Linked DNA regions of Homo sapiens: region 2 is linked to region 1. A link means that fine-mapping ties the variant in region 1 to the expression of a gene that starts in the linked region. Tissue or cell type: whole blood. Region 1 holds a variant in brackets; the other region holds the start of a gene. All regions are shown on one strand. Distances are between the middles of the regions.

Evidence for each region. PIP is the estimated chance that this variant, and not a neighbour inherited with it, causes the effect.
Region 2: CEACAM19 starts here. The variant in region 1 is fine-mapped to the expression of CEACAM19 in whole blood (GTEx, PIP 0.94).

Annotation. Positions count from the first base shown.
Region 1 is chr19:44,597,937-44,603,087 of GRCh38, forward strand. No RefSeq gene overlaps it. Among named protein-coding and RNA genes, the nearest start is that of IGSF23, 13 kb to the right of the region's middle. The variant C/T (reference allele first, on the strand shown) is at 3,176.
Region 2 is chr19:44,668,743-44,673,893 of GRCh38, forward strand. CEACAM19 (CEA cell adhesion molecule 19) reads left to right here and starts at 2,740. Exons shown (of 8, transcript NM_001127893.3): 1 at 2,740-3,244; 2 at 3,854-4,222. The coding sequence starts at 3,190.

The DNA of each region.
Region 1 (5,151 bases):
ACCATCACAAAAACGAAAATAACAAGGATTGGCAAGGATGTGGAGCAGCAAACAAGGAAACCTTGTGTGCTGTTGGTGGGAACGCAACCTAGTATGGCTGTTGTAGAAGACAGTATGGTGGCTCCTCAAAAAATTAAAAATAGAGGTTGGGTGTGGTGGCTCATGCCTGTAATCCCAGCACTTTGGGAGGCACTTTGAGAGAGAGAGGGACAATGAGAGAGAGAGGTCCCTGAGGGGATTGGAACCTCTGGTTCTGGGTGTCTCTGTGCTCTCCTGTCTTGGAACTCATTTATAACAAATTTCCCTTTGTGTGTAAACTGCCTCAAGTTGGACTCCTGCCATATAGACCCAAAAGAACCTTAAGAGCTACACCTGCCCTGACAGGATGCATCCTGCATTCCTCCTCCCAGAGAGAGCATTTTGTCAAGACTAGCTTCAGCTGCAAGTAACAGAAAACCCCAAAATCAAATGGCCTCAACAAGATGGAAGTTTCTCTTTGACATAAATGGAGTCTGGAGGTAGAGAGTTCAGGGCAAATGTGGCAGTTTCATAATCCTGGGGACACAGCCTCCTTCAATTATTACTGGCCTGTCATCTTCAGTACATAACTTGGGGTCCAAGATGGCTGCCAGAGCTCCAGCCATCATATCCACATTCTGTTCAGTAGTGAAAGGATTAGGAACAAAAGCTATCTTTAAGGCCAGCTCCTAGTAGCCTCATATAACACTTCTACTTCTATCTATTGGCCAAAAGTCAGCCACATGGCCACACTTAGCTCCAGGGAACCTAGAGAATATATTTTTTGCTGGACTCCCATGCATCCATTTAAAAATCAGGGTATGTATTACCAAGGACATAGAGGATGTGGACATCAGAAGCGTCTCTTCCAAAACCTTCTTCCTTCTGTAGAGATGGTGGGCATCCTAAACCTTCAGCCCCTGAGGGTCTCTAAACTGAAAAGTTTCCTGACAGACATTTGGAGAACTGATTCCACCAAAAACTATCCACAGTGGGCCAGTGGATGTCACTAACCTGGAGCAGATGGCAACCTGGGGAACAGGCCCAAGGCCAAGCAGCCATTAATCGCCTTTTGGAGCCCAGCCAGAAGAAACTCTTGATAAGAATCCTAGCCCCAGCCAGGACAAGGTCCCTGCCCTGCCCAGCTGGGAGCCAATGTGAATCAACAATCCACTCTTCCTGTGTGGCAGCCAGAGGGAGTGTTTACCTGGTGATCTTCAGGAACTGTAAATGGGGTGAGTTCCGATCTTCTTCACCTCCCCAACCCAGAGATGAAGGATCCAGTCTTGCACCCCCATCTAGACGAGCCCTTATCTTACCATTGTCCTCACCCAAAATACACACCTCCACGACCAGGGGACACCATTCACACAGAGCACAATAAATGGCTCCCACCAAGGTGGGCAAGGCACTGGTCCTGATTCTGGTCCACAGCCACCTGGGATGAGAAGGGGATGTAAGAACTAGATTGAGTGGGGTATCCCCCGCTGTATCCACTTCCAGAGAAGGGCAGGGCAAGGTGGAGCAGGATGAGATAGAACAATAACAATAGCTTCTATATATCATTCACACAAGATAGATTACTCTTGTTACAGCCCAAATGACAGGGTCATTGTAGACAAGCAACAGGAAGAATTTGGTGGCAAATGGCGGACAGTCTAGGAGAAGAGCAGAGGGCAACCTGGCCCAGGTAGCACATAACTATTCTCTCAGGCATACCTGTTAGGGTCCTGACCAGCTCTCTAGATGAGTGAGAATTGGGAGTTGGGAGCAGAAACCGTTGGGTATTCTTTGGACAGTTGGAGAAAAGGGAAAGAAGAATGGGCATGGGACCTTGTTCTGGCCAATGCCTAGTGAGAAGAAGTCTGCTGGGGGCTGATGGGAGAGATTTTATTGGATCTTGAAGAGAACTAGGAGCAGCAATTCCCCTTTTGTGTCTCTGGATGCGGCTGGCCACCATCTTGGACTGGGAGGGAAGTCACCATGAGAGGACAACCTGTTGAGGCTGGGGTAGGAAGATGAAGAACCTGGATCTTTGGTGTTATTACTGAGCCATTGTATTAACCAACCGAGGAACTGCCCTTTCATTGGAATCCCTGCTACATAAGATAATACACGTCAGTGTTTTAAACCACTTTGAATTGAGTTATCCACTTTGTATGGCCAAAAGCATCCAAAGTCATGTTTGAGGGGCTGGTTTTCTCGTCTAAACACAGCCCCGGCTCAGTTAAGCATAGGATGGGATGAGGAACAGGAACACAGGAGGCAAGGAGGAATGTCCCTGAAAATGTTTGTAAATGTGGGGTCGACACCAAGAGGCAGAGGGGAAACTCAATTAAAACTTAAAGACTGCAAGTTGTCACCATTGTAGACGTCTCAGCTTTGCAAGAAGTCAAGAATTTTCCAAATGCCACTCTTCAAGAGACAACTGGGCAGATGTGGATATTATTCCAAGATATGGGAAAACCTAATGTCACCATTAACCTTTGAATGAGATACAGCTGAAAGTGACAGATTCTTGAGTCCAAATGACTGGCCCAGATTCTCAGGCGTCCTAGCACAGCACAACCGAAGTTGGCACTTTTCTTTCCTACTTTGTTTATTCATCTTGGGGATGCAAAACGCTGCATGCATCATCTTCTATTTATTAGTAATCCTGTTACTCCTATTTCTTTCCCATGTTGTCACATTTTTACCGTATTAGAGCTGCTGCTTTGTTCTCCTCTCAATACCAAAAAATGTGATTGCAAGATTTTGCCTTGAAACTCTGGGCTGTTGTAACTCCTGGAAATAAAAATCTCAGCAGCATAAAAAGGAGAAAATCATTCTCTCTTCTGCAACTATAGAAAAGCAGACACTCTTTCCCTCATAAAACCTTCCTTGTAAATGTGGTTCTCACAAAGGAGTCCTATAAGACACCCAGACTTCAGAGACTGCTCTTGCTGCATCCTGCAAGAGCCACCTCTAACTTCCCAAAGCTGGGCTGATTGTCTTCATTTCTAATTTGTTATTCCTGGTAATGACACTCCTTTTTCCTAAAAAGTACAAAGAATTATGAGTTTTCATTGGCCATTCTCCCTTCCCCTACCCTCATAGAGCTAAAAAGACCACCCAGGACTCTGCTAGAAATTTTTATTAAAACATATAGATAATGTAA[C/T]AGTCTTGTCTCATTTAAATGAATATTTTCCTTCATGCTGATATATGGATGGTGGCTGAAAACAGCAAGATGAGAAAATTGCTTTCATTTGGAATACTATTGCACTTGTGTTTCCTAAGATATTTCAGGGGTCAGTCTGGTGTTAGGACATTCATGTGCTTCTGATTTGATTGAAGATTGAATTAACTTAAATTCTTTTTTTTGTTGTTTTTTACTTTTTTTATTTTTTTAAAGACAGGGTCTCACTCTGTCTCCTGGGAATGGCTGGGACTGGAGTGCAGTGACAGGAACCGTAACTCACGGCAGCCCGGAACTCATGGGCTAAAGCAATCCTCCCACCTCAGCCTCCTGGTAGCTGGAACTACAGGCACTAGCTAACTGCCTAGCTAACTTTTTAAAAAAATAGATGGAGTCTCACTATGTTGCCCAGGCTGGTCAGGAACTCCTGGCCTCAAGCAATCCTCCCACCTTGGCCTCCCAAAGCACTAGGATTACAGGTGTGAGCCCCTGCACCTGGCCTAATTCAATTTCTCAGAAGGCGAAGGGGACAGATCCATCCCTGGGAAAGACATCTGACTGTTCTATGATGGAAAAGAGAAAGGACTCTGACTCCATTAGTACCCCACGATGATCTGAAGCTGCGAAAGTGACCCATCAGAGGAGCTGCTGTCTCCACCATCACAGGCAGGTGGGGAATCAAAAAGCTGCTGCTGTTGCTGCTAACTGGAATTGTCGGCTCCAGACCTCTGCAGGGCTTGCTGAATTCACACAGGCAAGAGCCTCTCAAAACACACTGGTGATGATACAGAAGATAGAAAGAAATTATTTAGGCAGATAGTAAGAGCAACAGAGTCCTTGGTGGAATTCCTCTTTAACAAAAAGCAGCCCCAAAATCATTTCTTTTCTAAACAAAGAGCAGCCTGAAAAATTGAGCTGCAGACATAGATAAGCAAGCTGGAAGCTTGCATGGGTGAATGCTGGCAGCTGTGCCAATAGAAAAGGGCTACCTGGAAGCCAGGTATGTTCAACCTGGAGGCTCCATCTTCCCTTTTGTTTGTTACCACATGTGCGGTTAAAAAAAAAAAAGCAGGCAACATGGCACTGGCCAGGTAGACAACCCATCTGCATAATGAAGCTGGGTGGGGCAGCCAGCTTCTTTGCGCGCTATGCAAACGGCACACTTAGTCCTAACCAGTTCATCATGTGCTATGCAAATGGCACACCTGGTCCGACCAATCTTTCGTGTCCTATGTAAATCAGACACAGCCTCCTCAATCTCATCTATAAAACCTTCTGCATTTCACTGCCAAAGTGGCAACCTATTTTCTCCAGAACCCCTCTCTGTGCAGAGAGCTCTTCTCTTTCTTTCACCTATTAAACTTCCCCTCTTAATCTTACTCTGGTGGTCCATGTCCTAGTTTTCTGTGGCTGTGAGACAGCGAATCTCGGGTATTTACCCCAGGCAATGACACTGTTTCAGTGGTATCTCAAAAAAAATCTAAACGGGTGTGGTGGCTTACGTTTGTAATCCCAACACTTTTGGAGGCCAAGGCAGGCAGATCACTTGAGGTCAGGAGTTCGAGACCAGCCTGGCCAAAATGGCAAAACCCCATCTCTACTAAAAATATAAAAAATTAGCCAGACATTGGTGGCGGGTGCCTGTAATCCCAGCTACTCAAGAGGCTGAGGCAGGAGAATTGCTTGAACCTGGGAGGCAGAGGTTGCAGTGAGCCGAGATCGCAATCACGCCACTGCACTCCAGCCTGGGCAACAGAGCAAGACTCTGTCTCAAAAAAAAAAAAAAAAAAAAAAAGAACCTTAGTCTCCACAACAACTTATCTTATCCCAGACATTCCTTTCTATTGATTCCAGGTCTTGAGATGATAACTTAACTCTTTCAACCAATTGCCAATCAGAAAATCTTTGAATCCATTTATGACCTGTAACCCCTCTGCCCCACTTCAAGTTGTCCCACC
Region 2 (5,151 bases), 71 kb after region 1:
ATATAATATAATATAATATATATAATATAATATATAATTATATATAATATATATTATATATAAAATAATATATATATATTCAGTTTTTTTTTTTGGAGATGGAGTCTTGCTCTGTTGCCCAGGCCGGAGTGCAGTGGCACAATCTTGGCTCACTATAACCTCCACCTCCCAGGTTCAAGTGATTCTCCTGCCTCAGCCTCCCGAGTAGCTGGGATTACAGGCATGCGCCACCACGGCCAGCTAATGTTTGCATTTTTAGTAGAGACAGGGTTTCATCATGTTGCCCGGGCTGGTCTTGAACTCCTGACCTCAAGTGATCTGCCTGCCTCTGCCTCCCAAAGTGCTAGGACTACAGGCATGAGCCACCACGCCTGGCCTATTCAGTATATTTTTTTGAGACATGGTCTCACTCTGTCACCCAGGCTGGAGTGCAGTGTCATGATCAAAGTTCACTGCAGCCTTGACCTCCCAGGTTCAACAATCCTCCTGCCTCAGCCTTCTGAGTAACTGGAACTATAGTTGAAAGCCACCAAGCCTACCTAATTTTTTAAATTTGTTTTGTGTAAAGTTGGGGTCCTACTATGTTGCCCAGCCTGGTCTCCAATTCCTAGGCTCAAGCAATCTTCCCACCTCAGCCTCTCAGAGGGGTAGGATTACAAGTGTGGGTCACCTGTGCCTCCCTAAATTTATATTTAAATAGCCACATATGACTAATAGCTATGATATTAAACAGCATAACACTAGACCCTCCATTATCCAAGCTCTGTTGATCCAACCAACAGAGCACATTTGATCTCTCCTACCTCCCAGCCTCACACACACAGGCCCCACACCCTCCTTCCTGGCTCCACTCACCCAAGATATTGCAACCTCCTCAATACACCTTGATGACTATCTCAGCCTCCACATCCTTGCATTGCTATTTATGCTGCCTGGTGCACCTCATGCTGCCTCACCCCATCATCTGCCTCATTTCTACTCTTACTCCAGGTCTCAGCTCAGATGCCCCCTCCCCCAGGAAGCCCTCCCTAGCCGTCAGGTTGAATGAGGTGTGTCTCCTTGGGCTCTCCCAGACTCCTGGGCTCCTCCATCCCAGCCCTGATCACTCTGGATCATAATTGTGTGAGAGGGGTCTGCCCCCCCAAACCCTACAGGATTGTGTGCCCTACTGTGGACAGAGGGCAGAGCAGAGGTGGTCTCAATCATCACTGTGTCACCAACATCACCCAGCACACACAACTGGGCACTGGGAATGTGTGCTGGAATGAATGGAGGATGCTTTTTAAAAACTAGGCTAAGCCAGGTATGGTGAGTCACATCTGTAATCCCAGTACTTTGGGAGGCTAAGGTGGGAGGATCACTTGAGCCCAGGAGTTCAACACCAGCCTGGGGCAACATAGTGAGATCCCATCTCTACAAAACATATAAAAATTGACCAGGGATGGTAGCACACAACTGTGGTCCCAGCTACTCAGGAGGCTGAGACGGGAGGATTGCTTGAGCCCAGGAGTTGGAGGCTGCAGTGAGCAATGATCATGCAACTATACTCCAGCCTGGGCAACAGAGCGAGACCCTGTCTTAAAAAAAAAAAAAAAGAATAACACACTTGGAATAAACATGATCCAAAAAAGTACAAAACATACACTCTGGGGCTGGGTGCAGTGGCTCATGCCTATACTCCTAGTACTTTGGGAGGCCGAGGCAGGAGGATCATCTGAGGTCAGGAGTTTGAGACCAGCCTGGCCAACATGGCAAAACCCCATCTCTACTAAAAATACAAAAATTAGCCAGGCATGGTGACGCATGCCTGTAATCCCAGCTACTCAGAAGGCTGAGGCAGAAGAATCACTTGAACCTGGGAGGCGGAGGTTGCAGTAAACTGAGATTGTGCCACTGTACTCCAGCCTGGGTGACACAGCATCTAAAAAAGAAACCAATCCAAAAACTACAAAATATTCTTGCAATTATAGGTGACATATTTAAATGGTAAGACAACCAATGTTCATGAATGGAAAGACAGAGCAAGACCCTGTCTCAAGAAAAAAAAAAAAAAAAAAAAAAAAAAAAAACAGGCTGAGCGCGGTGGCTCACACCTGTAATCCCAGCACTTTGGGAGGCCAAGGTGGGCAGATCACCTGAGGTCAGGAGTTCAAGACCAGCCTGACCAACATGGAGAAACCCTGTCTCTACTAAAACTACAAAAGTAGCCGGGCGTGGTGGCGCATGCCTGCATTTCCAGCTACTCCCTGAGGTGGGAGGATCGCTTGAACCCAGGTGGCAGAGGTTGCGGTGAACTGAGATTGCGCCATTGCACTCCAGCCTGGGCAACAAGAGCGAAACTCCATCTCAAAAGAAAAAAAAAGAAAAACACGAGGCTAAGAGCTTTTTTTTTTTTTTGAGACGAAGTCTCGCTCTGTCACCCAGGCTGGAATGCAGTGGCGCGATCTCGGCTCCCTGCAACCCCTGCCTCCCAAGTTCAAGTGATTCTCCTGCCTCAGCCTCTCCAGTTGCTGGGATTACAGGTGCCCACCACCACGCCTGACTAACTTTTGTATTTTTAGTAGAGACAGGGTTTCACCATGTTGGCCAGGCTGGTCTCAAATTCCTCACCTCGTGATCTACCCACCTTGGCCTCCCAAAATGCTGGGATTACAGGCGTGAGCCACCGCACCCAGCCTGCCTCAGAGCCTTCAAGTGAGTCAGCCACAGGTGAAATCCCACCTCTGTCTATTGGCAGACTTGCCTCTTTTCCTGGGCCTCTGTTTCCACATCTGTGCAATGGGAACAGTTATTTATGGTGGCTGCTGAATGAGGCAGTGTGTGTTTGAACAAACCCAGGGGAATTGTTCAAACAGAGGCTGTTATGACTATTGCTACAGTGACTGCTGTTGTAGTCACGCTGAGTGAGAAAAAGAGGTTGAAGAGGGTCAGGGGAGGAGTCCTGGGAAGTTCCCCAGTCACCCTGAAAAACTGGTTCAACCTCTGTCTGTGCTCCCATCCCAGGGAGTATAGGTGGAGCCTCCAGAGCCCATGGACAGGGCATGCTGGGGCTGGGCCAGCCCCAGCGGTGTCTCTAAGGCACCCCTGGGATCCCCACTGAGCTGGCCTACTTCAGACAGCCAGGGCCCACCCCTCTGGCCCCCTTAGTGTCCAGCTCGTGGCCCCTTGGCATTTCCACAAGACGCCAAGATGGAGATTCCCATGGGGACCCAGGGCTGCTTCTCAAAGAGCCTCCTGCTCTCAGGTAAGGAGGAAATAGACCCTAAAGGCCAAGGGGAGAAATGGGGACTCAGCCCAGAGATTGAAGTTTCCTCTTAGAAGTAGGGAAAGATTACCTGAGAGGATGAAATTAGAATAAGATGGGGGAGGGGCAACAGAATCACAGCCTCATTGCCATTTTATCTATGGAATTTTCTATAATGTTAGGACCATGAAGGCAGGAATTTATGTATGTTTGGTTCCCTGCTATATCTCCAGTGTCTAGAAATTGAAGGAAGTTTAGATGTATTACATATAGTTGGTATTATAGCTTATATATTACATATGCCTATAAGTATTGGTTGAATAAATGAATGAATGAATGAATTCAGAGAGTCCATGTGTTTAGAAGCAGGCCACACAGCATCTCAAGGTAGAAAAACCTCTGGATCAACAGGATGGCAAATCTGTGGTAACCATGCCTGTGTTCCCACTCCTGCACCCAGGGCAGACATCACTAATCAATCCCAGCATTGTTTCCAATGAGCAGCACTCAGAGTCCTTGCTCCCCGCTGAAGATCTGTATCTAGAGAGGAGCATGCCATGGTCCCTGGCAACACCCCTGATCTCAGCCCTTCCCTGTAACTTCCCACAGCCTCAATCCTGGTCCTCTGGATGCTCCAAGGCTCCCAGGCAGCTCTCTACATCCAGAAGATTCCAGAGCAGCCTCAAAAGAACCAGGACCTTCTCCTGTCAGTCCAGGGTGTCCCAGACACCTTCCAGGACTTCAACTGGTACCTGGGGGAGGAGACGTACGGAGGCACGAGGCTATTTACCTACATCCCTGGGATACAACGGCCTCAGAGGGATGGCAGTGCCATGGGACAGCGAGACATCGTGGGCTTCCCCAATGGTTCCATGCTGCTGCGCCGCGCCCAGCCTACAGACAGTGGCACCTACCAAGTAGCCATTACCATCAACTCTGAATGGACTATGAAGGCCAAGACTGAGGTCCAGGTAGCTGGTAAGTGTTAGGGTCTGGGGATGAGGTGAGGAAGCTAATGAGCCCTGAGCAGCTACCATGCACCAGGTGCTGTGCAAACACCATTTCATTTGGTCCTCTCATTTATTCACTTGACACATATTGAGCATCTACTGTGTACCAATCCCCAGAGATAGTCTTTAACCCTCACATGCATTAACTAATAAAATATCTATGAAATGCCCGCCTTGTGCCTGACACTGGAGAATGCACCATCTCATTTACCTTTCACATGCACTAACATTAACCAAATTTTTATCGAGCACTTACTGTATGCCTGGTTGTGAGGAATGCATCCCTCAATCTTTATGTTTATAAAGCGAGTATTTACTGATGAATCCACTCGGGGCAAAGTGTGAGGGAAAGGGTGGTGGGCAATAATGACAGCTGGCATTTCTTGGGTGATCGTTAAGAGCCAGGCACCATCTTAAACATTTTCCCTAAAGCATAGTTTCTCAGCTTCAGCACTACTGATGTTTTGTATTGGCCAGTTCTTACTAGTAGAGGGTTTGTGCATTGCAGAGATTTCAGCAGCACCCCGGCCTCTACTCACTAGGTACCAGTAGCAGCTTCCTAGTCATGCCAACCAAAAATGTCTTCAGATATTACCAAATGTCTCCACCCTGGGATAAGAATCACCCCTGGTTGAGAACCATTACTCTATATTTACTCATTTTTACCTTAAAACAACTCCATGAGGCCAGCGCCATTATTGTCTCCATTTTACAGATTGAAAAATGGAGGCACGCAGTGGTTATGACTTGCTGAGTAAAGAATACGAACCAGAATGATGTGACATGGGAAAGGAGGTCATCAGGGAGACCTCACTCAAGAAGTGACCTTAGAGGAGAGACCAGAAGAAGGTGATTGAGGGAGGGAGGTGCTGTGGCCCCTTGCCATTTCCACAGGAC